Linked DNA regions of Homo sapiens: region 1 is linked to region 2. The links come from fine-mapping of genetic effects on gene expression. A gene starts in region 2. The other region holds a variant in brackets. All regions are shown on one strand. Distances are from middle to middle. Region 1 overlaps AFG2A (AAA ATPase AFG2A). Region 2 holds the start of NUDT6 (nudix hydrolase 6).

Region 1 (17,372 bases), 34 kb before region 2:
ACTTAATTATATGAAAAGGTAACATAAAACTTGGACATCTGGATCTCATATTTAAATTCTAAAAGTTGAGCATAAAATTTGCTAATGATATACTCACATATATGAAAACAAAGCAAGTATAACAAAAATCTAAGTCTCCTTTTTTTAAAATGTACTTTCCTCAAAATATCAGAACTCTAAAAAATTTGTTTTATTTGGAGTCTTTATTCTCCCTCAACTCTGTATTAAGTATAGACAAGGTGCTAAGTATCACTTGCTGTACCACTAGGAAAGTTTCATTTCTCACTGCCCATTAATAAATAAATTTTTAAAAAATCAAATAGAATATCCTTAAAGGTTATTGTAGTTCTCACCTTATTTATATTATAAGTGACTGCTGTAACTTAAACTGATCAAAGGAGCCAGTCTATTCCAAACCCTCTATCACTTTCAAAAGTTGCTTTTAAAGGTAATGGCACTGTGGAAGGCACATTTGTCTCCAGATCTGAACCTTAAGCCAAGGCTTATTTCTCACTAACTGCTTGAGTTTAAATGTATCACATAGTCTCTCCTCATCTGTGAAATAAGGGAATGTACTAAATTATCTCTGAAAGAGTAGTCGATTATTCTATTCTAGTTGCAGTTTTTGCAATTACTTTTTTTTTTTTTTTTTGAGACAGTCTTGCTCTGTTGCCCAGGCTGAAGTGCAGTGCCATGATTTTGGCTGACTGCAACTTCCTCCTCCTGGGTTCAAGCAATTCTTGTGCCTCAGCCTCCCAAGCAGCTGGGACTACAGGCATGTGCCACCACACCCGGCTAATTTTTGCATTTTTAGTAGAGACGGGGTTTCACCATGTTGGCCACACTGGTCTCGAACTCCTGACCTCAAGTGGTCCACCCGCCTCAGCCTCCCGAAGTGCTGGGATTACAGGTGTGAGCCACTATGCCCAGCCGCAATTACTTTTGCACCAACCTATAGTTGTAAAACATCAAGATTAATTCACTTCACCAGTCCTAGGTTTCAAACTGCCCTAAATACAGTTTCCATTTTCAAATTTTTCATATTTCATTATTTACCTACCTGGCTTAACAACCTTACTAAAATACTGAGTTTTGTTTTTGTTTTTGTTATTTGAAAAAAGGTGATTAGAGTACAATTTGTATGCCAAGAGAAGCTGAAGATTCACAGCTGGGTAGACTAAGTCAGGGCCCAGGTAAGAGAAGAGTAACCAGGAAAATAATAAAGAAATATAGTTAGATTTGGTTTTTACTGGAGACAGGGAGGGATGACAAGGAGGGAGGACTAACTATATTTATCCCTCTTTTATGGAAAGCATAAAAACTCTAAATATTAATAATAATACATCAACAAAACTAAAAAAGAAATTGACAATCACTATATCTGCTTCTTCAACTCTCAATCAATCACCCTTCAATTTATTGCAATCCAGCAGCTAGGCACAAGACACCACTAGAATGTCTCTCTTCCACACTCCCATGACCTCCCAAGTAGGGAACTAAGCACTTTATGTAACTGTGGTCTCTACTGTGATCAACACTGTTGATCCTAGTTCCACTATTTATTACCTGTGTGATCTTGGGAAATTTCCTTAATCTGACATAAGTTTCCTCAACTACAAAATAAAGAGAACCTCAGAGAGCTGCTGTGAGGAAGAAATGTGTTAGTACATACAAGGTGCTTCAAACAGTGGTTGACATAATCCAAGTACTCAATGAGTGTGAACCAATACCCATTATTTCCTCACTGAGTGCTTACCTCATTTCATCTGAGTCACCACTTCTTTGGGTTCTCTTCCCATCTCTCTAGCCACTCCTCAGTTTCCTATACCAAATATTTTTTAACAACCCAACCTTTGAATGACAGTATTTCCCAAGACCTTTCTACTGTATTAGCATTCTGAATGCACCCTGATCATTCACATAACACCCAACACACTGTATTGTACTTATCTTATATACTGTTCCATTTCCCTGTGAGTCTTAGTTTCATGAGGAGAGAGCCCAAGTCTATCTTATTCATTGAGGTAGCCCCACCATCTAGTGCAGTACCTGGCTCAATGAGTGAAGGAACTCTACTCACCTTCTGTTAGTGATTTCATTCTTTCTACAGCTTCACCATGTTAACTACTAACAACTCCCAAGTCCATATCTCTAACCTAGACCTGTCCTCATCTTCAAAACCTATAATTCAAAGTCTTCCAAGTTAGACAATGTAAAAAATAAAGATAGATGAGAGGTGAAAAAGAAACAGTAGGCAGGAAGAAGGTATTTCAATAGTCCAGACAAGAGCTGATGATGGTGTGAACTGTGGTATAGCAGTGAAAGTAGTTAATTTTTTTAAGAGGTCAAATTCTGAATAAGTATGAAAACAGAGCTGACAGGATTAGATAAAAAAAGAGTAAGAGAAAAAAGAATCAAGAATAACTCTCAGAAATAACTTTTATTTAGATAGCCTGGTTTTATTTTTGTGATTGTTTTAATTAGAAAGAAAACCTTTCCTCAAGTTTTATATTTTTATAGTCTTGGCAAAACAACCCAGAAAATCTTCTACTAGCAAAGTAAATAGTATATGTCATTTAGAGCTTAAACAGAATCAAAACTACCACCTCTTTTTCTGAAACAAACCATTCAGTTCCAGTCATCTCAAATGAGTAGCAAAAGTAATACTAAAATACCCACTTCACTGATAAAAATAATTCCATCTCTATATAATATCCATAATATTTACACAGTAGGACAAATCCCAATATCACAAATATAACATTCTATAACTACATTTTAGAATTATAAAACAGAGGAGAAAATTCATTGCCTTATGAAATATGCTGCAAAATTACTGCTTATTTATCTAGCTACAATAATACGTCCCTTGTAAAATGCATTAATTAGAGCAGGGGTCCCCAACCAATGGCCCATGGGCTGGTACTAGCCTATTAGGAACTGGGCTTCACAGCAGGAGGTGGGCAGCAGGCGAGCAAGCATTACTACCTGAGCTCCGCCTCCTATCAGGTCAGCAGTAGCATTAATTCTCCTAGGAGTGTGAACTCCACTGTGAATTGTGCACGTGAGGGAAATAGGTTGTCTGCTCCTTATGAGAATCTAATGCCTGATGATCTGAGGTGGAACAGTTTCATCCGGATATCATCCCCACCCTCTCACCCCAGGTCCATGGAAAAACTGTCTTCCACAAAACCGGTCCCTGGTGCCAGAAAGGTTGGGGACCACTGAATTGGACTGATTATCATGACATATACATCAATTTAACTTGTATTCCTACTACTGTTGCTCTATGACACGCCTACAGCGAACTCACATCTGGGATGACCCAAAGTTCAGCAAGAAAATCTGTCAGCCAGAACAGTGGTTCATGCTTGTAATCCCAGCACTTTGGGAGGCTGAAGTGAGCAGATCACTTGAGGTCAGGAATTCAGGACCAAACTGGTCAACATGGTGGAACCCCGTCTCTATTAAAAATACAAAAATTAGCCAGGCGTTGTAGTGCATGCCTGTAATCCCAGCTACTCAGGAGTCTGAGGAAGGAGAATCATTTGAACCCAGGAGGCAGAGGTTGCAGTGAGCCAAGACTGCGCCACTGCACTCCGGCCTGGGCAAAAAGCGTAAGACTCCGTCTCAAAAAGAAAGAAAATCTGTCAAGGAGGCTACCCAAAAACAAGCCATATCTCTAGTCTGCATATTCTTACTGACGGGCAAGATTTTTACTGATTCAGATTCAGTGAAAATCACTACTTTAGCAAAGCAAAGGATTCTGCCAGAGTTCCCTATCTTTTATACTAGGATAATCAAGAACACTTCATATCAGAAAAATTGCCAAAATCCAAACAAGCTTCTACCAGAGAAATGCATAAATATACGTAAAATACAATTTTTAGAAAATGTTTAAATATCAATTTTCCAGAGGCGAAAGAAGAAAAGGAGAAATTAAGTGACACTTATCAAGGGCCTATATAAACCATCACCACTGCTGCCAGGCTATATTACTAAACCTCATAAGAACTCTTAAAACCATATAGTGTTATCCCTACTTAGCTGGTGAGGATATAAAACCCAAGAGGTTGAATAGCTTGCTCAATGTTTATCAGCTGATAAAGTATAATGATAGCATCTGAATGTAGAGCTCACCATAAGCTTTGCAATAAGTCCCATTATTTCCCTGGACTTTATTTTAAAATATCAAATTTCTACAGTATCAATATTTTAATTCTAACTTAGAAAACAACGTTGACAGAATTGAAAAAATAGTAAAAAATATTAGAAACAGAACCTTTCATAAGAGTTGGACTATTACATACATAGCAGATGCTCCATAAATCCCTGTTAAAGTAAGCTAGTTGGGGGTGGAGGGACAAATGAGCTAAAAATATCTCAGAACACTGGACAAGAGATAAAATTTTCCATCTCAGAAAAAGTTACAATTATTAGATTCGGTATTGCTACTAGACAGATTTAAGTGCTGTAATAACAAAATAATTATTTAAATATGAGTTTTAATTCTTCCTGTTCTGTTATGCTACCTTATCAAGGCCTGAGAATTTGGTAAGAACATGTTGAAATGATGTGTAATTAACAAGGATGCTAAAGACAATTCTTAGAGACGCAAAGCAAATACTTCCTTTCACCATAAACAAAATGACTAAGTCCACTTCTTGAAGAAATCAAGATCTATTTATATTCACTCTCCTGAAATGGCACAGGCAGCCTTAGAAGGATAAGTTTATAATAAATCCCTATATTTGGAAAACATTGTTGTAAGCATCTTCTAACATTCAACAGAGTTTACGAAACTTATGTCACTGCTACATAATTAATATTTCATGTTTTCCCAAAAAATGCAGTATGCTTATCTATGTTGTTAATTTAAAACATTATAAATTTTGAGGGAATTAATAAAAGGCTATGCAACTAATTAATTAGAAAGGCAGCCTAATCCCAGCAGGAATACAAACACAGACACTAAATGTCAGGATGTGTTAGAGTCTAGCTTGTAAACAACTTGCCCATTTGAGATAAAACATTTCAAAATGCAGCTGCTCTTTGCTTTAAAAAGGTGAACTACAAAACATTAGCTCTTTGGACAAGTCACGACATATCAAACCACACTCTAGCTAAAAAATTAATTATAAAGAAAATATAACTTTTGAAAATAAGCTTCACACCCAATCACAAACACCAAACGTTGTTATCTGCTCAGATAATGTGAGATCTAAGGGTTGAAAGCAACACTTCCTATTGTAGTGCTTCCAATTTTCATATTCATTATGGGAACAAAGTTAAAAGATATGGAAAATACTTAGTAACCTGGAATAAAAGATTAGAGATGTTGAGAGTAAGCACACTGTAAAAGACGCATTATCACTCTCACAAAGTATGGATTGTAAACCTTCTATCCTCTGAAAAGGCATGTACAATCTACACAAACACTACAGAGGTTTTGTATTCATATCCTACAAACAATAACCTTTAGATTACAGAAACAATCAGGAAGCATAGCTCACTATGTTCTAAGAAATTCTGAATCACTTCAATTCATGCCATTACTAGACATACGTGCACAACTTTTGTTAAAAAGTACAGAGCTTCCTTCACTATGCGGCAGTCCAGAAGAGGGAAAATCATCAGAGACACAACATATAAAAAGCACAAACATGCAGGTCCACAATCTTAACTAGGAAATACACATGTCTGTACTCTTACTTGTATTCTGAATTGTTAATTAACTGTTTTACTTGTGACTTTTTTTCAGAATTATTTGCCACTTTTAAAGTTTTATTCGGAACCATTATACATAACTGAAAAACTTAAGACATTCATTTTCTCTTGAGTGGCAAAGTTAAATGATAGTTTGGAAGAGCACATTACTATCACAAAAAACTTCTGGGAGGAAACGCAACAACACTATTAGAGACGGTCAAAGAATTTCAATCCCTAAATTTAATCCAGTTATTTAAATCAGTTAGAGAATCTCCAAAAACTGGGTAGTTGGTTGCCCTAGATCAGTGATTCTCAAAGTACAGTTCTTGGACCAGCAGCAATGACATACCTGCAAGCTTGTTAGAAATGCAAATCTGGGGCCCCACTTGGACCTTCTGGACCTACAGGAATCAGCAGGATAGACCCCAGAACTGTGTTTTCACGAGCTCTACAAATGCTTCTTACATAGGTTGGAGAACCACTTGCCTAAATCAGCGAATCAAATGTCCAGTCACAGACAAGGGCAAGACTGGCTGCTTCAAAATCACTTGGAAAACATTATAGATCCTGCCTCCAGCTTCCTAACTCCCTTAAACACTTAATTATGAGTGGGAATGTGACTGTGAGCATGAGTGAATGTGTAGTTTCCCAGGTGAGCCTGATGCATAATGAGGTTTAGGAACTAATGCCCTATAGGTCAATAGCTCTCAAAGTGTGGTCTCCAGATCAGCCGCATTAGCACCAGCATTAGCATCACCTGGGAACTTGTTAGCATTCTCAGGCACCAGCTCAGACCTACTGAATCAGAAACTCTTGTCAGGGGGATTCAGTAACCGAGTTTAGTAAATTCTACAGGTGATTCTCATATAATAATGTTTAAGACTCTTTGCTCTAAGTGATTGGTCCTGAATTAAAAACATGTGAAACAAACCTGAATTCCGTGGGGAAGAATAAATAATAGAAAGAGATAGATTTAACCTACATACCCAGAAATACATCTGGAGATGGAGTCTCTTAGTGTCAAACTCACGAATCTGGTCAAGATGCCTTAACTACCCATATATGCCAGTGGCCATTTACAAGCACTCCATTTAAACATAGCACAACTGGTGAACAATGAAAACACCTCCTGAAAAGCACTTGTTTTAAACAAATGTAGTTAAAGGCCGTATCAGAGCCAAAGCTTGGAAATCTGTCAGTGGGAAGGCAAAAATGGACTAAAACCAGTTATTTAAAGCAGCCTCACTGTCCTACATTTTTGAAGATTACACAGAACATATAACTTGCTCATTGCTACTTATAAAGGCAGGAATAACCACTTCAGAGTTCTTTCCTCAGCGCAAAGCAGAGATTTCTGAAGGCAACAAAGAGTGGAAAAAAAGAGATGATTCCCAAGGTGTTTACAAACAAAACTAAGCTCAACTCTAAAATTAATAAACACTATTCCTTTATCAAGG[G/T]TGTATAGGGTAATAATTATGTCTCCTAGATTTCACACATATTTCTCAAATTATTCTTCAACTAATCAAATACTTATTGAGCACCTATAATATACCAGAAGTCATTAATATTGCCTCCAAATATTAAGATATTACCATGACTCTTTAAAAAAACAATTATTCTAACTTTCTGGGTAATTCTAAGATCAGTGTAATGATTGTGACTGCTTGCACCTGCCCAAGGAAACTTATCATGTTTAACAACAACAACAACAACAAAAAACAGATGTGAGTTCAAACTTGTGTAGGCAGTTATTTCAAAGGACTGAGAGCAACTCAAATTATTCCCTAATAACTGCTGTAACCTGAGGTGGAATGCAACACCAAATGTCCAATTCTTTTTATTTAAAGCTAAGAGAGTAGTTCAAATCTACCATGCAGAATGAATGTTTTTCCCTATGCTCAATGCACACATCATAGTAAACAGGAATGCTGCTGTTATGTTCGATAAGTGGGATACACTTATGCCTATTCTATAGCACTTGGAACATAGTCCTACTACTTCAAATGCTTATAGTTTCCCAATTGTTTCAGCTTTCTAAGTCACACTACTAATCAAACTGGTAATTTACTCTGTCTTTAGTCAGAAATTATAAAACTGTTCCAATGAGAAAATGCAGTGCACTTCACAACCAACATTAGTCTGCTTTATAGCACTGTTTCTAAGAACACCATGGGAAAACCCTAACTACATAAGTGTAAGTCATTCACACAGATACAAAAGAGAAGACCACTGAAAATAGCCGATGAGGCCTGAAGAGGCTTAGGGCTTTTTCTTTACCTTCTTTCTCCCTTTCCTTTTTCTAATTCTTCCTATCCTTCTTTTTCTTCCATTTTTTTCTTGTTCTCCCTTACGTCCAGGGAATGTCATAATGCATTATGACACTAAAATATCATCTACTCCAATCTCCTCAATTTACAAATGGAGAAAACTGAGGCTCAGATAAGGCATAGAACCTGTCTAAGATCACAAGCCTGATTTTAAAAGCAAGTCTGTCCAACTCTCAAAACCTATTCTACACTATACCACCCTGCCTCATTAGAAAATTCTCTTGCAAAAATTCCAGCATACTGTTTTCAAATTTTATTCTGCTATATAAAGTTAAGAAAATGATACTACATAATACAACATACACTAGTATTTGGGACAGTATACACAAAACCAAACATATTTTCCCTACTGGATTCTGTAATTAGAACACTAATCTTTTTAAAAACTACTCCTCATAGGCGGAGCTTGCAGTGAGCCGAGATCACGCCACTGCACTCCAGCCTGGGCGACAGAGCAAGACTCCATCTCAAAATAAATAAATACATAAATAAAACTACTCTTCATAATCTGATTCATTGCTAGATTAGGGGAAAATAGATCAGTTCAACACCTGCATATTTTCTACTTTATCAACTGATGCTCTCCTTACTTTATCAACTGATGCTCTCCTTAGTATCATACGCTAAAATTAAATTATAAAGTCTTATACCCCTCTAAACAAGATCCACCTTTTATTAGTTTTAATTAAGAGCATGAAGTTGAAGTAAGATGACCTTGGCTTTAAATCCCAGCTCTGCTGGATACTCGCTCTGAGGCCTTTCTTGAGTCTGTCTGATACTTCTATCACAGGGTTGGTAGGAGGATTCAATCAAATAATGTTTTCCTTTTCTCACTTTCTCACTGTAGAACTCCTACTCTAAGCTTCTTCTTAGATGTCATTTTTTCTATTTAACCACAGTATTTGCTTTCCTCACAGAAGTCACTACATTTTTACATTTTTATGAGTAGTTTATCATTATATTTGTAGTTGTTTACAAATCTCTTTCCTTCATCAGACAGTGTATTTCTGGACAGCAAAAATTCCAGAGCCTTCTAGAGTGCATAAAATGTATTAGAAAGTCAAAAAGTCTCTAGTAAGGCATGCTGAACATGGCAAGTCCTACAGAGCAACACCTACACAGCAATCCAGACTCTTCATTACCACCTTATGCAATGAAAGAAGCAAAGCTATCTACTGATACTTCTGCTTTTTGATCCCTAGGTAATCCATTTCTACGACCAGGCCCACTAATCCCTGTGACGCTAGAAGCAGCTTCACAGAAACTAGACAGAGTGAGACCCAGTCCTAGAGCAAAATGTACCAAAAGAATGTTTGTATTTGCCTTGATAGTCTACATAACCTGCAGTCTCTCCCAACTGTGATTCCTATAACCTAGAAATTGTGGTAATGATCAAATAAAATGAAAGAAAAACGATTTTCTCCACCAACAGTAAGATATTCAAAGATTCCTAAATATCTCTTCCAAGTTTTCTTTTCCTAACTGTTTTTCCTTCTTGAGCCTCTTTCCCTACATATATCAGTCCAGATAAAAGGTCAAAAAGACTAAAGGCAGGGTCTTCAAAGCCTACTAAATTAGACAACTATGAGTCAATGATTTGGAGGTAAAAGTTATTGCATTTGTATTTCTGAACTAAAGCTCTAAAATAACTGCAATGGTTTGAATGTCCCTTCCACAACTCATGTTGAAATTTAATTGATATTTTTATTGTATTAAGAGGTAGGACCACTGGGAGGCGATTAGGCCATGAGACCGTAACAACATTAATCCTCAGGAATGGATTAATGCCATTACGGTGGGAGTGGGTGTATGGCAAATGCACCTGAGAGCAATAACTTAAGAAAGGAGGGTTGCCACGTGAAGGCTGCTGCACGGAGGGTGCCAAATAAAAGTGCTATATAAGCTGCATGCTTTTTGCAAGCAGTTGAGGTTCTCCTGTCTAGTCCACCACCACTGGACTGTCCCTGTATGTTAGTTCTCCCTAATAAAACCCTATGTCTTGTTTGCTAGCTCCAGGTCTCTTTTGCCTCTTGAACCTGGTGCCATCCTTACAGAAGTTAACACGGACTCAGTACCACAACTGGTGAACCCAGCAGGAAGGTGGAGAAAAATTTCATGAGCACCGAGACCGTAAGATCAGGAAAGGGGAAATCCAAGGGGGGGTCCCGGGCTGACCATCACATTTATGTGGTGCCCAAAAGCCACTATCCTTGATGGATGGGACCCAATGTATGAGTACAGAACACCCCAAAAACACCGAAGGGTCTGGAAGAGCTGTTGCAGGGGGTGGATCTAACTAAGCAAAAGTTAGATGCCTGAGCTGTGGCAGCCACAATGGCTGGCCATTCTTGACTGTGCTCCCAGCAGCCACTGAGGCTGAGCTCCCAGCACAGGCCAGGGGTTGTCTGTTATAGGAAGAACTATGAGTAGAAAGAGATGCCAGACTAGCTCAACCTAAAACATCAGAGACCCTACTGTCCTACCTGCAGAAACAGGATGACAAAATGGAAATCCCAGCTTGTCAGGTAGCCTGTTTGAAGGGTCGCCAGCTCCCATGCCAAGTTAGGACTATATGACTAAATCTTCCTAAGTCCAGGGACCCAGTGGAGAGCTCTAGTGAGGAGCAGAGTGAGGACTGGGATAAGCCCATAGAGGTCCTGTTCTCTCTACCAAGATAAAGTCAGACCAATGGTGCCTGCAGGGAGTAGACCCACAAAACTTGTCTCTGCCTGAAAGATGGTAGCATACCACAATGCAGCACTACACCACTATGGAACTAGTGGAGCTGGGCAGAAGGTGGGTTCAGGAAGAGAGACAGTTGATTGAGAGGTGGCTTCTCTGTCTATGGGACACGGGGATGGAGGGTGTTATACTCTCCAGACTCAAGATGAGTGGAATGGCATACATCGCATGCCACCCAGCCCTGAGGCAGCACCTCTATGGTGCCAACAATGAGGATCAGGCCATGCCCCTCCTTAGCTGGGTGGTTGTGGGCTGCAATGAAGCGTGGCCAGATGAGGGCAGTATCCCCATATCTCCTTTGTGATGGCAGACTATGGAGGAATTGCAGGACATCATCTGGAAATTAGGGATGAAACATGCTATCTATGCTGAACATCACCAAGGTCCAACAAAGAGCTTTTCACTGCCAACATGAAAGACACCATCTTAGTCTGCACTCAACCAATGGTATGGTGTGCTAGTGTCTACCCAGAGCCCCCTAGTAGGACAGCCAGTGTCTCAGGTGGCCCAAGCAGCCACCAACTTATGAGAAATGGAGAAACTGCATAGGCAAAGGGTACGTGCTGCTGGGATGAAAGACAAGGGCGCCAAAGGAAAGGAGATGGCCAAGGGGCCCATCAGGGTGACTGACCAACAAATGTGGCACAACCTGGTAGTGGCAGGAACAGCTACTATGAAAACAGATAAACAGCCTAATGCTGTTCTGGTCAGACTGTGGCAGAAGCTCACACCAGAAGAGTGCTTCACTAAGGAGCCTCAGGTTCAGCCCGCCACCCTTCCTGCAGAGGGATAGCAAGTGTCAACCCTGTTAGACTGGATGAAAGCCAAGGCCCCAGAACCCTGATAAGAGTAATGGTGGCCAGGGTACCTGGGGACCAGAGGCCACATGTAGAACTAACTATATATTGGTCGCCTAAGAATAAACACACTGTGCGTGCCCTAGTGGATACTAGAGCCAAATGCACTTTCATATATGGTGACATTCGTTGGTTCCAAGGGGCTAAAATGGCAAAAGATGGTTATGGATGGGGATCAGAAAGGTTGAACTGTCTGAGTATTACAAGTTGAGAGACTGCCACCAAAACCCTATTTAGTATGTATAGCTCCCATCTTGGAATACATCTTGAGAATGGATATCTTATCAGGCTTGACCCTCCAAACAACTGCTGGGGAGTTCTGACTGAGAGTGGTGAAGCATGTGACCAAGGGGAATGCGAAATGGACACCAGTCTAGTTGCCAACCCCACACAGCAAGTAGTAGCACTGAGGCAATACTGCCTGCTGGGGGGACATAATGAAACCACAGGGATTGTTAAGGAGTTAGCCCAAGGAGGCATTACAAGGCCAGTGCACAGCCCATACAACAGCCATGTACGGCCCATGTGGAAGCCTGATGGGACATGGACAATGACACTAGATTACTGGGAATTAAGTAAGGCAGTCCCCCCAATGTATGCACATGTTCCCAATATCACCTCCCTTCTAAAGAGGGCGGGAGAGGCACTGGACACATACCACTACCACTCTGTTACTGATTTAACCAATGCCTTCTTCAGCATCCCCATTGCCGCAGAGAGTCAAGACCAATTTGCATTCACCTGGGAAGAACAATAGACTTTTACCATCTTGCCCCAGGGATATTTATATAGCCATGGAGGTCCTGGAAGGGGTACACATTTTCCATTACAGTGATGATATCGTGCTAACTTCTGAGTCTTTTTCCAGCTTTCAAACTGCGCCCTCACACCTTGCTGCCTCATCTGGCAAACAGGATGAGCTATAAACACAGACAAAAATCCAGAGTCCAGGCTTATCAGCCAAATACTTGAGTCTGCCATTATGGATAGGGTGCAGGCCTACTCACATCGTGTGACACCAAAGCAGCTATAAATCTTCTTAGGACTCCTAGGGTATGGGCATCATTTTATTCCTCATTTGGCCCAACTCCTTAGACCCCTATACTGTTTAGTCAAGAAGGGGGCCCACTGAGACTAATCCACGAAGAAGGATGAGGCCTTTGAACCAGCTGAAGTCACAGTGAAATAAATACAAGCCTTGTGAGTTCAGGTGCAGAGACAGCCTGTGAACTAGATGTAGCCAGTTACCTTGAGGGGTTTGGGTGAGGCCCGTGGCAAAGGCAGAGACATACATATGCGCCTTTAGGATTCTGGTCCCAGCTACGGAAAAAGGGTGCAGTTAGATACAGTGTGATGGAACAACAACTCTGTGCTATACATTATGCCTTACAACAAGTAGAGGACATTACAAAAGGGGTCCTGATGCTAGTATGCAGCCAGTACCCCAAAGCAGGTTGGCTAAAGGGTATCTTCCAGAAACTGAAGTCTGGGAATGCCCAGACACAGACTGTGGCCAAATGGCTTACATACCTGCAACAAAGGAGCACATTAATAGCCCCTTGAGCTCAGAGCTCCATTCAGTGCTTGGCCCTGTCATCTATGTAACAACTGTCACATAGTCTTTTAGGGAGGCTGCTGAGCCTCCACAGATGCTCTCCTTCATACAGGATAGACAGGGCCCAATGTCTGACCGCCCAATGACTGACCAGGCCTGGTACACAAACAGCTTGTCACGAGGCAATCCTTGCACTTGAGCAGGCATAGCCATCCAGCCATCCACTGACAGGATCTGGATTGATGATACAGGCCAAGGACATAGCAGCCAATGAGCTGAGCTGCAAGCTGCCAGGATGGTCCTCCTCTATAAGCCAGACCCAGCAGTCCTGTGTACTCACAGGTGGGCTGTCTGAAGTTAACAGGCATCCGGCATGACATTCCTTAAGGAAAATTGTGATTCTCCAGTACACATTTCTCCCTGATTTCCACAGCACGATATATCAATAAATATTGTCTTCATCAATACTGCCAACAATGCATCTGATTACATGTGTGTGCGTGCGTGTGTGTGTGTGTGTGTGTGTGTGTACTTTGGAAAAGTCTGATAGGATACAGTCATCCCTTAGTATCTATGGGGTATCGGTTCCAGGACCCCTAAGATACCAAAATCTAAGGACAGCTCAAGCCTCTTATATAAAATGGCACAGTATTTGCATGTAGCCTATGTACATCCTCCCATATAATTTAAATAATCTCTAGATTACTTTTACCTAATCCAATGTAAAGGGACTCACCATGTGGCTACTACAATGGGAAGCACAGGACTAGACAGTAGCAGGTCACCTCCTTTGGTGCCCTGACATGTAGAAGGACATTCCCCATTGCATCTGGGGGATGCATAAAATGATCTACCATGTGGATCCCCACACTGCATCTACACCAACCTGGAAATCAACAGGCAGACAAATTAACCTGCATTCGTCTCCTCAAGGGAGTCCCCACAGACGATGTGGTCAACTGGTTACAAAAGAAGACAGGACATAGGGGACAACTTACCCTTTGGGCCATAGCAAAGAATTGGAGCCTGCCACTATGATACAAAGACACAGTACACATCTGTCAGCAATGTCTTACCCGTGCACAGGAACACCCCAGGCCCTTGCCACCTGATACCAGAAAGATCACCCAGGGCCAGAGCCCAGCACAATGGTGGCAGGTAGACTACATAGGATCTTTGCCCCTATTGGATGGCTGCCACTATGCCTTAACTTGTGCAGAAACCTGCACAGGGCTACAACGAGCATAACCCAGCAAGCATGCCACCATAAAAGGACCAGAACAGATGTGTGCAGCCTACAGCGTCTCCATCAATAGTGACAATGGGCCAGACACAGTGGCTCACGCCTGTAATCCCACCACTTTGGGAGGCTGAGGCGGGTGGATCACCTGAGGTCAGGAGTTTGAGACCAGCCTGCCCAACATAGTGAAACCTGTCTCTACTAAAAATACAAAAAATTAGCCAGGTGTGGTGGTACACACCTGTAATCCCAGCTACTCAGGAGGCTGAGGCAGGAGAATTGCTTGAACTCAGGAGGCGGAGGTTGCAGTGAGCCGAGATCGCGCCATTGCGCTCCAGTCTGGGCAACAAGAGCGAAACTCCATCTCAAAAAAAAAAAAAAAATTAACAATGACTAGGGCTCGTACTTTACCAGATATAAAGTACAAGAATAGGCAGAGGCCCTGGATATCCACTGGCATTTTCACCTGCCGTACAACCCTACAGCAGTGGGGCTGACTGAACAAATTGAATGGACTGTTGAAACAACTCCTATAGGAGTTGGCTCTGTGGACACGCTGCTTACCAGCAGCCGTGCACAAACTGAATAAATATGCACATTCTCATCACCCCATCATGTATACTCTTCTAACACAAGGATGTGATACGACCATCAGGATACAGGTAGACAGGGTAAGGGACAGCAGACCTTTGCCCCCAACCTGGGACACAAAGTAATCTGCTATGGCCCTTGCCACAGGACCAACCTACTGGGGAGCACATCATTACGTGGTTCTGGGAAATGGCAAACCAGCCCGATGGTTCAGTTTTTCTGCTCCATGGGGGAAGGGCCTAGAACAGGATATATATGTCACACCTATTTCATACCATACTCTCCACTGTAATTCTAAAATAATGAATCCTAGTCCTCCCTTGTGCAAGGGGATGAACATCCTCTCATGAAACACTATACCTCCACTGTCTTCCTCTGGCCTCCTGCAACACATTACAGAGGGGAGCCAGTCCATTTGGTATTGTAAACCAGGCATCAGGCTGCTGCCAGGGGTGGTGCTCTCTCAGAATGACACAACTCCCCATGTCTTGTTAAATGGCCAGGACTTGTCCTTTCTTGTACCCACTAAACAACTCACCTTTTGCCCATAGATGGTGTGCCGCAAACCTCTTTGCTGACTGGGTGCAGATGGTTATCTCTCTCCAGAAGAAAACAGACTGCTGGGTCTGCGGAGAGCTCCCCCTCTCCTCCGCTGTGGGCCTGCCATGCCACACCAAGGCAGTTAACATGAGTACCTGGGGCCACTTCGATACTTGGTATAGTGACCTTCACCTATTCCCCTTCAGCGACAACAGCACCTCATGCAGCAAGTTTCCCACCACCAACAACGTGAGATGGCATATTTTCCGCCTGGTAAAGGAGCAAGTTAATGTCACTCCCCACTGTAGGTAGGCTGTACACAATGATGGGCTAGAGTGGATGACAGCAGTGAGACAGAGATAGTGTGTCATGCACCCTTCTTTGTAAAATTGCATGGCCCTGGACATCTTAACTGCCCCCACAAGGGCGGAACCTATGGATTAATTAAAACCTGTTGTGTATGTATTCCTGATGACTCTCACGATCTAACCCAGGCCATGCAGGCCTTAAATACCCATATTTCCACTACAGAATCTAAGTCTTAAAACCCTATAACCACGTGTTTTAATCAACTCCTAAGCCCTTGAAAAACTTTCTATACAGTATGATTGTTATTATATTTGTTATTCTTTTTTGTTATTGTAGTTTATATTGCTACTGCAGCATCTGGCTGCAATGCTCCTCCACATACCTGGCCCCAGGGATCTCATGACAGAAAGGCATAAGAATGTGAGGGCCACGCAAGGGTATGCTGGTGCGGAGTATATGGCAGATGCACCTGAAAGCAATAACTTAAGAAAGGAGGTTGCCATGTGGAAGTTGCTGGGGGGAGGATGCTAAGTGAAAATGCTATACAAGCTGCATGCTTTTTGCAAGTGATTGCAGTTCTCCTGTCCAGCCCATCACCACTGGGCCGCCCTGTAAGTAAGTTCTGCCAAATAAGCCCTAAGTTTCATTTATTGGCTCTGGGTCCCTTCTTTGGCCTCTCAAACTTGGTACCATCCCACTGAAGTTAATAGGGGTCCAGCATGACACTCAATTTTAAGGAAAATTGTGATTCTCCAGTTTACACTTCTCCCTGATTTCCACAGCACAGCACAATATATCAATAAATATTGTCATCATCAATACCGCCACCAATGGATCTGATTACATGTCCGTGTGTGTGTGTGTGTGTGTGTGTGTGTGTGTGTGTGTGTGTGTGTATACTCTGGAGAAGTCTAGTAGGATATAGTCATCCCTTAGTATCTATGGAGTATTTGTTCCAGGACCCCTAAGATACCAAAATCTAAGGACTGCTCAAGCCCGTTAATGGCATAGTACTTGCATATAGACTACACACATCCTCCCGTATAATTTAAATAATCTCTAGATTACTTTTACCTGATCCCATGTAAATGCTATGTAAATACAGTTGACCCCTCAACAACTTGGGGGTCAGGGACACCAATCCCTGTGCAGTCAAAAAACTATGCATAACTTCTGACTCCCCCAAAAACTAACTACTAATAGCCTATTGTTGACCTGAAGCCTTGCCAATAATATAAACAGCTGATTAACCATATTTTTTATATGCATTATATGCTGTATTCTTACAATAAAGTAAGCTAAAGAAAAAGCAAGCTTTTTCAAATTGTTGCAAATCTCCAAAAAATTTTCCAATATATTTATTGAAAAATATTCATATATAAGTGGACCCATGCAGTTCAAGCCCTCATAGTTCAAGGGTCAACTGTAGTTGTGATACTATATTTTTTAAGTTTTTATTATTTTTTACTGTTTTAACTTTTTTTTCCTGAATATTTTCAGAC
Region 2 (11,595 bases):
TTATATACAGAACAGGTGACCTTCTTACCCCCAAAATAATATTTTTATAAAGAAATATAACTAACTGACAGGGAGAAATACTGTCACTATCGCCGGAGGCAACACTTCTCTCTACATAACATTTTAGGGGCTACTATGCCCAGCAGAGTCATAGACAGCAAAGGAACAGAGTTAATATACATGTTAATGTCTTTTAAAATACAGTTTTTCATTTATTCCTGCTTGTGTTGAAAATTAAAATCAGAAACATCTCAAACACAGGTTGAGTATCCCTTATCCAAAATGTTTGGGACCAGGAGCGTTTTGAATTTTCCATTTTGGAATATTTGCCTTATGTTTACTGGCTAAGCATCCCAAATCTGAAATCCAAAATGTTCCAATGAGCATTTCCTTTGACTACCATGGCACTCAAAAGCATTTCAGAGTTTAGATTCTTGGATTTGCAATGTTCAGTTTGTATTTCTAAACTAAGGAAATGAAAAAGACTCTTACCTCTTGCTTTCCGTTCAAACTAGTAAGCAACACTGGTCGACCTATACATATATTTGCAGACTTCATAGTGTTGAGTCCAAGATGAATAAGGGAATTCTGGAATGTTTTAGGAATTTTGTCATCTACTATGAAGGAAAAGAAAATTATTTTTGTACTACTTTGTAACAGAAGTTAAGGCATGCTTTCTTTTGCAGTAAATAAAAATACTCTAACCATATAACCACATGAATGTACTTACCATACCCTGGAGAAACTAGTGTTCCAACTTTTGTTATAACAAAACAGATTTAAAATCAAATGCTTTTGAGGGTCTACTGGCAACATATTAAGTATTAACTAAAAAGAAGATGTTTTATGGGGTGAGTATTGGTTTCTTTTTTTCTGAGTCTCTAATTTCATTAAGAAGTAAACATAATTGCAAAAGAGAGTCTCTGAGCTTTAAGTTCAAAGTTGAGTCAGCTACTAGTATTCAAAGGATTGAACTGGGAACTGGCACATCTATCTGGCTCTAGAGGATTAAGTTATGTTTCTACTTCTGCCCCACATTATGGTCACCAGATCTTTTTCTTTTGTATTACCAAGAATACGTAAAGAGAGTAACAGAAGTCGTCTTCCTTATACGAACACACACCACTAGTGATTTCAACTTTTGGCTGAAAAAGGGGGTCCAGAATTCAGGCCAGTTAACAACACCTCTGAAAATGATGTGCTGTCATCTCCACTCCTTTCTATCCACCCCACCCCCACCAAGCTCCATATTTAGTTAGGTGTCCCTCCTCTAATTCCTCCAGCACTCTGTGCTGCCAGTTAATAGCATTTACCATAATATTCATTTGTTTTAGTCTTTCTCCTTAATTGTATACTGCTTTGAAGCAGGAATTGGGTCCTATTTCTCTCTGTATCTCCAATGCTTACAGTGCATTAAATATAGCAGTTGCACAATAAATAGCCATAAAATGAATAAATGTAGTAAATAAGTATACAATGGTTTTCTTTTCAGCACAAAATCTATGAAACACTTAGAGAATTTAAAAATGTCACAACTTCATTATAAAATTTATTGTAAACATATATACCATAATCACAGAGCTCTACCTAAGTTTTCCTTAATAATCAGAAAACAGATATTCTGTAATAAAAAAGAAATTAAATCAAGGAAAGGAAAACCATAAGGTACCCATATGATTTACATTATTCTGTCACTACAAAACAACTCCCCAACACATTTCTTTTCCTTCTTATATGAGGTGCAAATCTAGAAAAACAAAGCATCTCACAGAGCTAAGATGAACAGCACTGAGTATAAAACGAAATGAACACATACTGCATAATACAAGAAGCTGGACAGAAATTCAACCTTCCAATGAGCATTAGTTCTCTTACATTGTTTGCTGGTCATTAACAGTAAAGCATACTGCTGTTAGATGATCTCATAATATTCAGTTCCTGCCTCTTTCTTCCTAAACCTCAATGAACTATCTTTCCCTCTTGACAATTACCACACAAGTGTTCTCAGTCCTTCCCAAGACTTTAGTTTTCTTCTTCTCCTTCCACCCTATCCAGCACATTCTCCATGTCCCAGGATTTATTCTCCACCTTGTCTTTCAATGGTAATCATGTTCAAATTCCCAGCCACTGGTCTCATTTTCCAAAACATCACCAACGTGTTCTCTGCTTACACTATATAGGTCTACTCAAGTTGTCCACACAGTTCCCTTCTCACCTCACTCCTCCAATACTTTAAAAATATGTCAACATCTAATTTCCCCATTAACTACTTTCACATTTATTGAGCACCTTAAGTATCACATTAACTAACAAGATAGTAAAGATAATTTCAAACAACCATCCACCCTTCATTTATTCATTCAGCAAATATGTACTATGTGCCTACTATATGAAAGATACTATGCTAGGCACTTTTGTTCACAAGTCCTTGGTCTCACAGAGTTTATAGCCTTGTAGGATGAGTGAGTTATTAAACAATCAGTGGATAGCTGTAAAATAATAAACTAAGATTAATACAATGAAAAAATGACTTAGAGTGCCAGGAGAGCCATGTGGGATCTGACCTAATTTCAAATAAGAGAATGTTTCTCAAAGGAAGTGATGTTAAGATCAGGTCTGAAAGAAGAGTAGGAACTAACTAAATGAGGAGAAGAAAAAGATAATTCTCAGCAAAGAGGACAGCATGTACAAAGTTCCTGGGCAGAAGGGGGTATGGCGCATCCTCAGGAGAGTATAGGCAGAGTGGTGGAGACATAGGGAAGCCATGTAAAGAAGGTCAAGACCACCCAGGACAATAGTGCAATAGGCTGCATCAAGATGCTGGTCATTACTCTGACAGCAGTGGGAGCCCAGAAAGGGATGAAAAGCAATGTCATGACAAGATCTTCATCTTACAAGATCATTCTGGCTGCAGAATGGAAAAGGAATAAGGGGCAAAATTGGAAGCTGGAAAATCAGTCAAAAGGCTGTTGTAGCAGTCCAGGTGAGAGATGATGGTGTCTGAAATTAAGGTAGAAACAGTGGGAATGGCATGCAGAAGAGGAATATGTAAAATATTTAGGTAATAAACATGATTTAGTGGTGGACTAGGTATGTGAGATATGGGGGGGAGAGTCATGGATGACTCTTAGGTTTCTGAATTTTGCAGCGGGAAAAACTGAACAGAGTTGAAGTTTATTTTGTTGGAGGAAATAACGGGCTCATGAAGTTAGTCCTGAAGTATCTTTGGGACACTCATGAGAAGAGTTATTGTACAGTGCTATTCAAAATATGACCCACAACGATTTGTTACTGCTTCATGACAAGTACAAAACAGGAGAATAAGTATATAGAAGCTTTTATTGAAATTTACAGAGTAATTTCACATCTGTTTAATAAAAATTTTTCCTTATTTTTCTAGAAAATCATTTTTACTGTATTTTAGAAAAGTGCTGATCTGTGACCTATTATAAATTTTAAAGTCTTCACCACAGAGAGCTTGAGAAGCATTTGGCTAAAAGGCAACCACATCAAGGCGCAAAAACAAAAGATTTACAAATATAAATCTGACACTGAAGAGACTATAGATGGGAAACTCTGGGCACTGGATGAACTTGCCAAGGAGACAGGATTTATTGAGAGGAAAAAAAAGGTTTTGGACTAAGAATTGACGAACTTCAACATTTAATGGTCAAGGGAAGAGGACGAGCCTGCAAAGAAAAATGATGAAACATCAACAAAGATGAAGAAAACCAGGCAAGTTTGACAACACATAAGAAGTTAAGTGTTTCGAGAAGGAGGGAATGGTCAACAATACCAAAAGTTGCTGTGGTCACGTAAGGTTTATCAACACGGAGATGCTCGGAGACCACACCAGGAACAGTTTCCATGGAATGATGGGGTGGAAGTCAAAGAGGAATAGGCTAGGGAGAGTATGTAAGTGGTGAGGCGGCAGAGACCACTCCATTTAAGAAGCTTGGCAATGGATAGAGAGACGGTTGCAGGAAGAAAATGTGGAGCTTTTGTTCTGATTTAAGATGGAAGAGAAATGAGCATGTTTACATGTCAATGGGAAGGATCTAGTTCAAAAACAAGTTGAACCTTCAGGACAGAACAAGTTGTCCTCTGATACCTAAGGCAGAGTGAAAATACCATGTGAACTCTAAATTGTCTTTAAGGTCTGATTAGACATAAAAGTTTTTGCCACTAGTCTGGTCCATTTTTCAAAGCTATTACACATCAAATATAAATTTTCAATTTTTAATTCAATTTATAAGACTTTTCAGTATAAATACGTTCTCCCAAATCAAAGGAGCTGTCATCTAGGAATGGCTTTTAAGTCAAACACATCTGGACTCAAATATCGGCTCTGCCACTTAGCACCTGTGTAGCCTGAATGGAATCACGTTAACTTTCCTCCCTCTATAAAACTGTCATTACTATACCCATCGGTCACGGCTTCTGTAGAAATTAGATGAGCTATATATACTGCTAACACTAGTGTGCAGTTACTAGCAGTTATTAAATATCATAACCTGCGTAGTACTGGAAGAAAATGCTATCATCACTCCTAAAGGCAGAGTGATCCACATTTTTACTGAATTGGTTATTTAGTTTTTTAGGATAAGTATCCCATGTTCGCTAGTTATGAACAATTTTGCAATTAAATGTGTCGTTAATGTTAAATGAGACAAAGCGTTTCAAGTGCAACTTAAAAATTCAAAATAATTTACAAAAGAGAAACCTTGGACACGGATAAACCATTTCAGCCTAACTTCTCCAGTGCAGGCGCGGCTACGTTTGCATGCTTCTTACATACAGAAGTCTTACACGCTTCTGTGCCGCTCTCAGACCCATGCCACGCCCAACTTTCAAAAGTCTCTGCACCCCAAGTCAGTATCACTGAGTCTCCCGCCCCTCAGGTTGCGCCCCCTCGGCCTCTAGTCTCCCACCCGGAATTCTTTACCCTTTTCTAATAAGTTGGTCACCGTCAGAGTCCCGGAGGTTGCCGCGAAGTCTGATCCAGCAGAAGGAGCCCGTGCCTCCGCACAAGAGGAAGCAGCAGAGGGCAAGGACGAACCATTTTCCGCGCTTTGGTTCAACCGCTTTCTATTCTTCTTGGAAGACATGGTCACAAGGTACCCTAGCCGAAGCAGTAGAAAAGCCGACTCAATGTGCGCGCTTCAACTGAGAGAAAAACTTCCGGGGCAGAAGTCAGCGAGGGTCCGCCCCTGCGCCGTAATCCCCTGAGTGGAGCGCAGCAGTGCACAGCGTGGTGGGAGGGACTGAGCGTTTTCAAAACCAGCAGTCTTTGAAACAGCTGTAACGGCATCTGTGAAAGAAGATAGGTTCCAGGAACGGAACTGCCACTTAGATTGTAAATTCCTGAAAAACAGGACGTTTTTGCATCTCCTCCCGGCTTCCCCATCCCTAAACCAACGTCTGTTGAATTAAACTACCAAACAAAATAAGTGAGTGGCGGTGGGGGAGGAGGTTTTCCCCGCTTAACTGGAGCGGGGCAAATTGCTGAGAAGGGCTGGTGGACCACTTCGCGGTCTCCTTGGCATAGCTCTGCAGAGTGGTAACCCCAGCTCAACTCTGAGGGTATTGATGGCACTCTTCTAAAATGTACGGCCGCGATCTCCGCTCTGGAGCGCGGAGGGGTCATTTGGGCAACGGACGAATTAAGCGGCGTGGAGATGCGGCAGCCACTGAGCTGGGGCCGCTGGCGCGCGATGCTTGCCCGAACCTACGGCCCCGGGCCTTCGGCGGGTTACCGCTGGGCCTCGGGCGCACAGGGTTACGTGCGGAATCCGCCAGTTGGAGCGTGCGATCTGCAGGGCGAGCTGGACAGATTCGGGGGCATCTCGGTGCGCCTGGCGCGGCTCGATGCGCTGGACCGCCTGGACGCTGCCGCCTTCCAGAAGGGCTTGCAGGGCAAGTGCGCCTGGGACGAAGGGCTCCCGGGGCTCCAGAGCTTTTCTAATGAAATAACCGCGGCCCCCACTCCCTAGTCGCTCTGTGCACCACTGTCGAGCCCAGAGGGAAAGGGAGAAGGCACGCGTGACCTGGACCTGTTTTCTGGAGCATTCGTGCTTAGACCTTTTGCTGGGAGGTCTCTAAGGCGGTTGGGTGAAATGGTGAAGATCCCGGACTTTGGGATCTGCAACCCTGGTTGCTGGTCCACTTTCTACTGTGCGACATTCGGAAATTGCCGTAAACCACCATTTCCTCTTCCACAGACCCCGGTGATAAGAACTCCTGGAATTACTGAGAGTTAATTTGGATAATGCACATAAAGTGCACAGCACAGTGCCTGCCACGTATTTAAAGCTCAGTAGATGTTTGTTAATATTATATTATTACATTATTAGTATCCTTTACCGAGCCTTGGTTCTGTCGGACACTTTTCCCAAGGAAAAAAACTCTTACATTCTAATACGGGTGGTGGACTGAGTGGACCAAAGAGGCTTTTCTTTTTTATTTTTAATTTTTGTGGGTCCATAGTAGGTGTGTATGTTTATGGGGTATATGAGCTATTTTGATAGAGGTATAAATGTGTAATAATTACATCAGGGTAAATGAGATACTCATCACCACAAGCATTCAACCATAATCCAGTTACTCTTAGTTATTTTTAAATGTACAGTTTGTTTTTTTTTTTTTTTTTTTTTTTGAGAGAGGGTATCATTCTGTCTCCCAGGCTAGAGTGCAGTGGTAGGATCAGGGTTCACTGCAGCCTCCAACCCCTGAGCTCAAGCAATCCTCCCACCTCAGCCTCCTGGGTAGCTAGGACTACAGGCGCGCATCTGGCTTTTTTCTATTTTTTCTAGAAACGGTGTCTCACTGTGTTGCCCAGGCTGGTCTCAGTCTCCCGGGCTCAACTGATTCTCCCGCCTTGGCCCCTCAAAGTGCTGGGATTACAGGCAGGAGCCACTGCACCCAGCCTGAATCTTTATTGAATATAGTCACCCTGTTGGGCTATCAAATACTAAACCAGAGAGGTTCAGAGTGTCACATTTGTATACAAATTGGGTCAACAGCTGTCTCAGCGAGAACTGGAGTTTTTTAGAATAACGCTTCTTTTATGATTAACCAGGGACGGTGGTGGGTGGTTTCAGTCTTCAATAAGAAAACTTTTTACTGGCTTTCAACCTTGAGCCCAATGATAAGAAAGCTTGGATGGAGGAGCCTTCACTTTGGAAGAAGTCGATTTAGTGGTGCAGCAGTTTTTCAAACGGCCTCTGAGGGTTTTATAATCTAATTGAAGGCATAGCATGCAAATTCAACTATGGAAAAATCTCTCACACTGGAAACTCAAAATAATCTTTATCCTATTGAGCAATATGGCAAGAAGCATATCTGTAAATATAATTGAGCTAGTTATTTCAATGTTTACTCATCCTCATTCCCAGACTTCTTACCTCTTCACATTATTTTCTCTCCTACTTGCTAGTAATTGCTGACAAGCCCGCTTATACTGCAACAGTGTCACTAATAGGAGAATCAATCGTTTTATCTTCCAGTGTGTGGGTAGACACAGGTGTTGTACCCACTGATACTTATCAATGACCAAACAGGTGATCAAAGCACTACCCCAGTCAGCATGACAAAGCAGAAAGCTGTGCGATTTGGAGGTGCACATTCTGGGTTTAAGTACCAGGTTCTGCCATGTGCTTAGCCAGGCATTAGGCAAATTGCCACCAAAAATATTTGCTTCTTAGCTTGCTTTTTGTGAATAACGCCAGCTCTAATTACTGGATAGATGCGTTGATCAAAGATGAAACTAATTTGTAAACTTAAGTACCAAATACTTGTTATATTTTTTCAATAAAACAAATTTTGTTGCACTTAATGGTAGATGTTTTAGGATCTTTATAAATAGTAATTAATCCTCCTAACAACCCTTTGAGGTAGATAGCATTATTATTCCTATTTTAAAGATGACAGTAGTGAGGCACAGAGAGAAAAATTTACTTGCCCTGGCTCTACACCTTTCTTACTGCACTATGCTACCTTGAAGAACTCCTGCTGGTTCTGTTGTTATAATTGAACAAAACTAACTGAATGGTAGTGCCTATAAAGAGAGACTATTTACACATGAAGTCCGCTATTCTTAGTCTTTATGGACTAAGAAGTCCATATTCTTGGTGGAATAAGAAGTCAACTATTCATATTCTTTTAGAACATGAACTATTGATGTTTTGTTACCAACAACTGAAGTTAGAGGGATAAACAGGCAATATGTTGTTAGCTTCACACATAACATATCTGCATCAGTAATGAAATAGCACTGGTTCTGGTCCCTGCTATGCCACTCACCAGCTATGTGACTTTAGGCAAGCCAGTCATTTCATTAGTACAAATTGAGCCCCAGTGCATAATGTAGGGTTACCCTGGAGGATTGCAAATGCATGGAATATTAAATAGAATTGGAAAAAATAGCTAATGGAAGAGATATCATTAGGTCATATGTAATAAGTTCTAATAAATTGTACAGACATAGTAGTCTTTAAATTCATAATGGTGAGCTCATGAGCAGTGGTTAGGAAAGACTGGTCAAAGATGTGGAATATGAGCTGGACTTTAAAGGATAGATATTAGCAATGGGAATGGGAGGTGAGGGAAGAAAAAGCAATAAAGCTTATTAGGGAAAAGAAGAAAGCAATTTAAAAATGATTCTAAGGTTTCAAGCATTGGTGCCAGAAATAAATAAGCTTATAAATGAAGCTAGTTTGGGGTGTAAGATTCAGTTTTGGCCAGGCGCGGTGGGTCACGCCTATAATCCCAGCACTTTGGGAGGCCGAGGCGGGCAGATCACGAGGTCAAGAGATCAAGACCATCCTGGCCAATATGATGAAACCCCGTCTTTACTAAAAATACAAAACTTAGCTGGGCATGGTGGCACGCACCTGTAATTCCAGCTACTTGGGAGGCTGAGACAGGAGAATCGCTTGAACCTAGGAAGCAGAGGTTGCAGTGAGCCGAGATTGCACCATTGCACTCCATCCTGGTGACAGAGCAAGACTCCGTCTCAACAACAACAACAAAAGATTCAGTTTTGAACACACTTTGTGAAGTCTGAAGTGGTAACCTTCAGGACAGGAAATGTCTGGGAGCAACTGGAGAACAGAAAGTTTAGTGTTCAGTGAGGTCAGGGCTGGGCAGCCATCCTCATGTATGTATCAGCTGAAGCAGTGAGAGTGGATTCTCCAAGACACAGAGTGTAGATATAAAACAGCAAGCAAATAGCATTGCTTTTAGAAAGTAGCCTTTTAATTTGATTGGAAGGATTGCCTGGGAAGGAGCACATGTGAAATGTATGGAGTGATAGAAATGTTCTATAATGTTAAAGTGTGTTACGGGCATATGCATATGTCAAATCGCATGAAATGTACACTTAAGATTTGTACATTTCACTTTATGTACTTTACCTCAATTTTTAAAAGATGTCATCAGACAAAGAGAGCAAGGTGAGAAGGACCTGATCCCATAATTCCACTGCATGCTAACTCAAATCAGGAAGTCTTTATTAAAGGCCCCATGTGCCTGTCACTGTGCTAGGCACAGCAACTTTCAAAGAGGTAGAGAACATTGTCCTTAAAGAGAGGAGCTTCCTGCAGAGCTAGGGAAAAGAGAAGGGAAAGTTAATTAACTATTTGATATATAATCAACCCCCAAAGACAGACACACACACACGCTTTATAGCGTTATTATAAAGATTAAGTGAGATGATGGATGAAGAAAGTGATCTGAAAAGCTTTTCTAAAAACTCTAAATCTGAAGTATTTATTTCTTCACCCATAAACTTAAGGTAGTAATACCTTTCATGGTTGTGCACTTAATGAGATAATATATATAAAGTGCTTGGAACTTAGTAAGTTTCAAATAGATATTAGCATCTTTTTCCCCTGGCTCAATCTTAAGTAGTAAAGAGAATTTAAAGAAGGCAAAGATAGAAAACCTATAATTATGTTCACCATGATATTATCTATAATAAGGAAAAATTAGAATTTTATTCCTATATGCTAGTAAAATGTGAAGTTTGATTTCTTCATATTTTTTATTTTCAAAATTTCTACAACCAGCATACATTATTTAAAAACAAAGTTTAACTACCTTGAAATTTATACATTAAAAACATTATAACAGAACTCCTAAAGGAAGAAAAAAATAGAAGTCCATAATTGTCTTTAAGATTAAACCTAAGGATGTTAAAAGGAACAGCATTCAAATGGTATTTGATTCGGTTTAAATCCTTTTATTTGTCCACTCTAAAACTACAGAACATCTGTTACGTGCCAAGCATTGTCTTTGGTGGTATGGATATAAAGGTCAGCAGTGTAATGACTTTATTCTGAAGGAATTCAGTCTGATGGAAAAATCATATAAACAAGGTGGTTACTATAAAACATGGTACTTCCAGTGCCAGCGATGTGAACAAGACATTTGGGGACCTCTTTTGCTTAAAGATGGTTTCCTGGAGGAGGCGAAACCCTGAGGTGAGTTTTAATTTATTCCACTCGTCTCTTTGGAAATTATTTAGACTTTTTTCTTCTGCATTTAGCTGCAGTACAGCAATGGCGATCAGAAGGTAGAACAGCTGTATGGCTGCACATTCCCATCCTCCAAAGCCGATTTATTGCCCCTGCTGCTTCCCTGGGCTTCTGCTTTCACCACGCAGAATCGGATTCATCAACGTTGACTCTGTGGCTGAGAGAAGGGCCCAGCAGATTACCAGGATATGCTTCACATCAAGTAGGAGTTGCAGGTCAGTTTCAAACTCATGATGAGCAGAATTAACTTTTTAGACGTTCACCCAATTTCTTGCTTGTTACAGCTAAGCAAATAGTTTATTCATGTGGAATGAGTTATTTGATTAAATGATTACGGTGGTTCCACCCTATCTGCACAGGATGTGTTCCAAGACCCCCAGTGGGCACCTGTAACCGCAGATAGTACCAAACCCTATGTATATATACCATGTTTTTTCCTATCACACATATTTATGATAAAGTTTAACTTATAAGTTAGGCACAGTAAGAGATTAACAGTAACTAACAATAAATTAGAACAGTTATAAAAGTATAGTGTAATAAAAGTTATGTGAATGTGGTCTCTCTCAAAATATTGTTTTGTATTCACCCTTTTGTATTCACCTGCACGATGAGGTGAAGTGAGGTGAATGACAGGCATTATGACCTAAATGGAAAATTCCAGAAAAAAACTCTTAAGTTTTAAATTGCATGCTGTTCTGAGTAATGTGATGAAATCTCTCACCATCCTGCTCTGTCCCACCAGGCCGTGAATCTTCCCCATATCCAGTGTATCCATGATCCATAGGCTACCTATCCATTAGTTACTTAGTAGCCTTCCCTGTTATCAGATCAGCTGTCCCAGTATCACAGTACTTGGATTCAAATAACCCTTATTTTCCTTATTAATGCCCCGAAGCACAAGAGTAGTGATGTAACACTTCGAGACTATGGTTGACCTTGTATAACTGAAATCACAGAAAGCAAAACTGGACAAGGGGGACTACAGTATCTATTACATAGTGCTTTTAAATAGGACTATTACATAGTGCTTTTAAATAGATGAAGTTTGCCTCAATCA

What was found.
Region 1: its variant is fine-mapped to the expression of NUDT6 in whole blood (TOPMed, PIP 0.98).

What each region holds. Positions count from the first base shown.
Region 1 is chr4:122,947,782-122,965,153 of GRCh38, reverse strand. All of the region lies in intron 9 of AFG2A (AAA ATPase AFG2A), which reads right to left. Among named protein-coding and RNA genes, the nearest start is that of AFG2A, 33 kb to the right of the region's middle. The variant G/T (reference allele first, on the strand shown) is at 7,167.
Region 2 is chr4:122,916,656-122,928,250 of GRCh38, reverse strand. It overlaps NUDT6 (nudix hydrolase 6), which reads left to right and starts at 5,654. Exons shown (of 5, transcript NM_007083.5): 1 at 5,654-5,916; 2 at 10,547-10,750. The coding sequence starts at 5,679. It overlaps AFG2A (AAA ATPase AFG2A), which reads right to left and starts at 5,173. Exons shown (of 16, transcript NM_145207.3): 1 at 4,946-5,173; 2 at 493-617. The coding sequence starts at 5,108. RefSeq lists enhancers at 4,812-5,181, 4,974-5,510.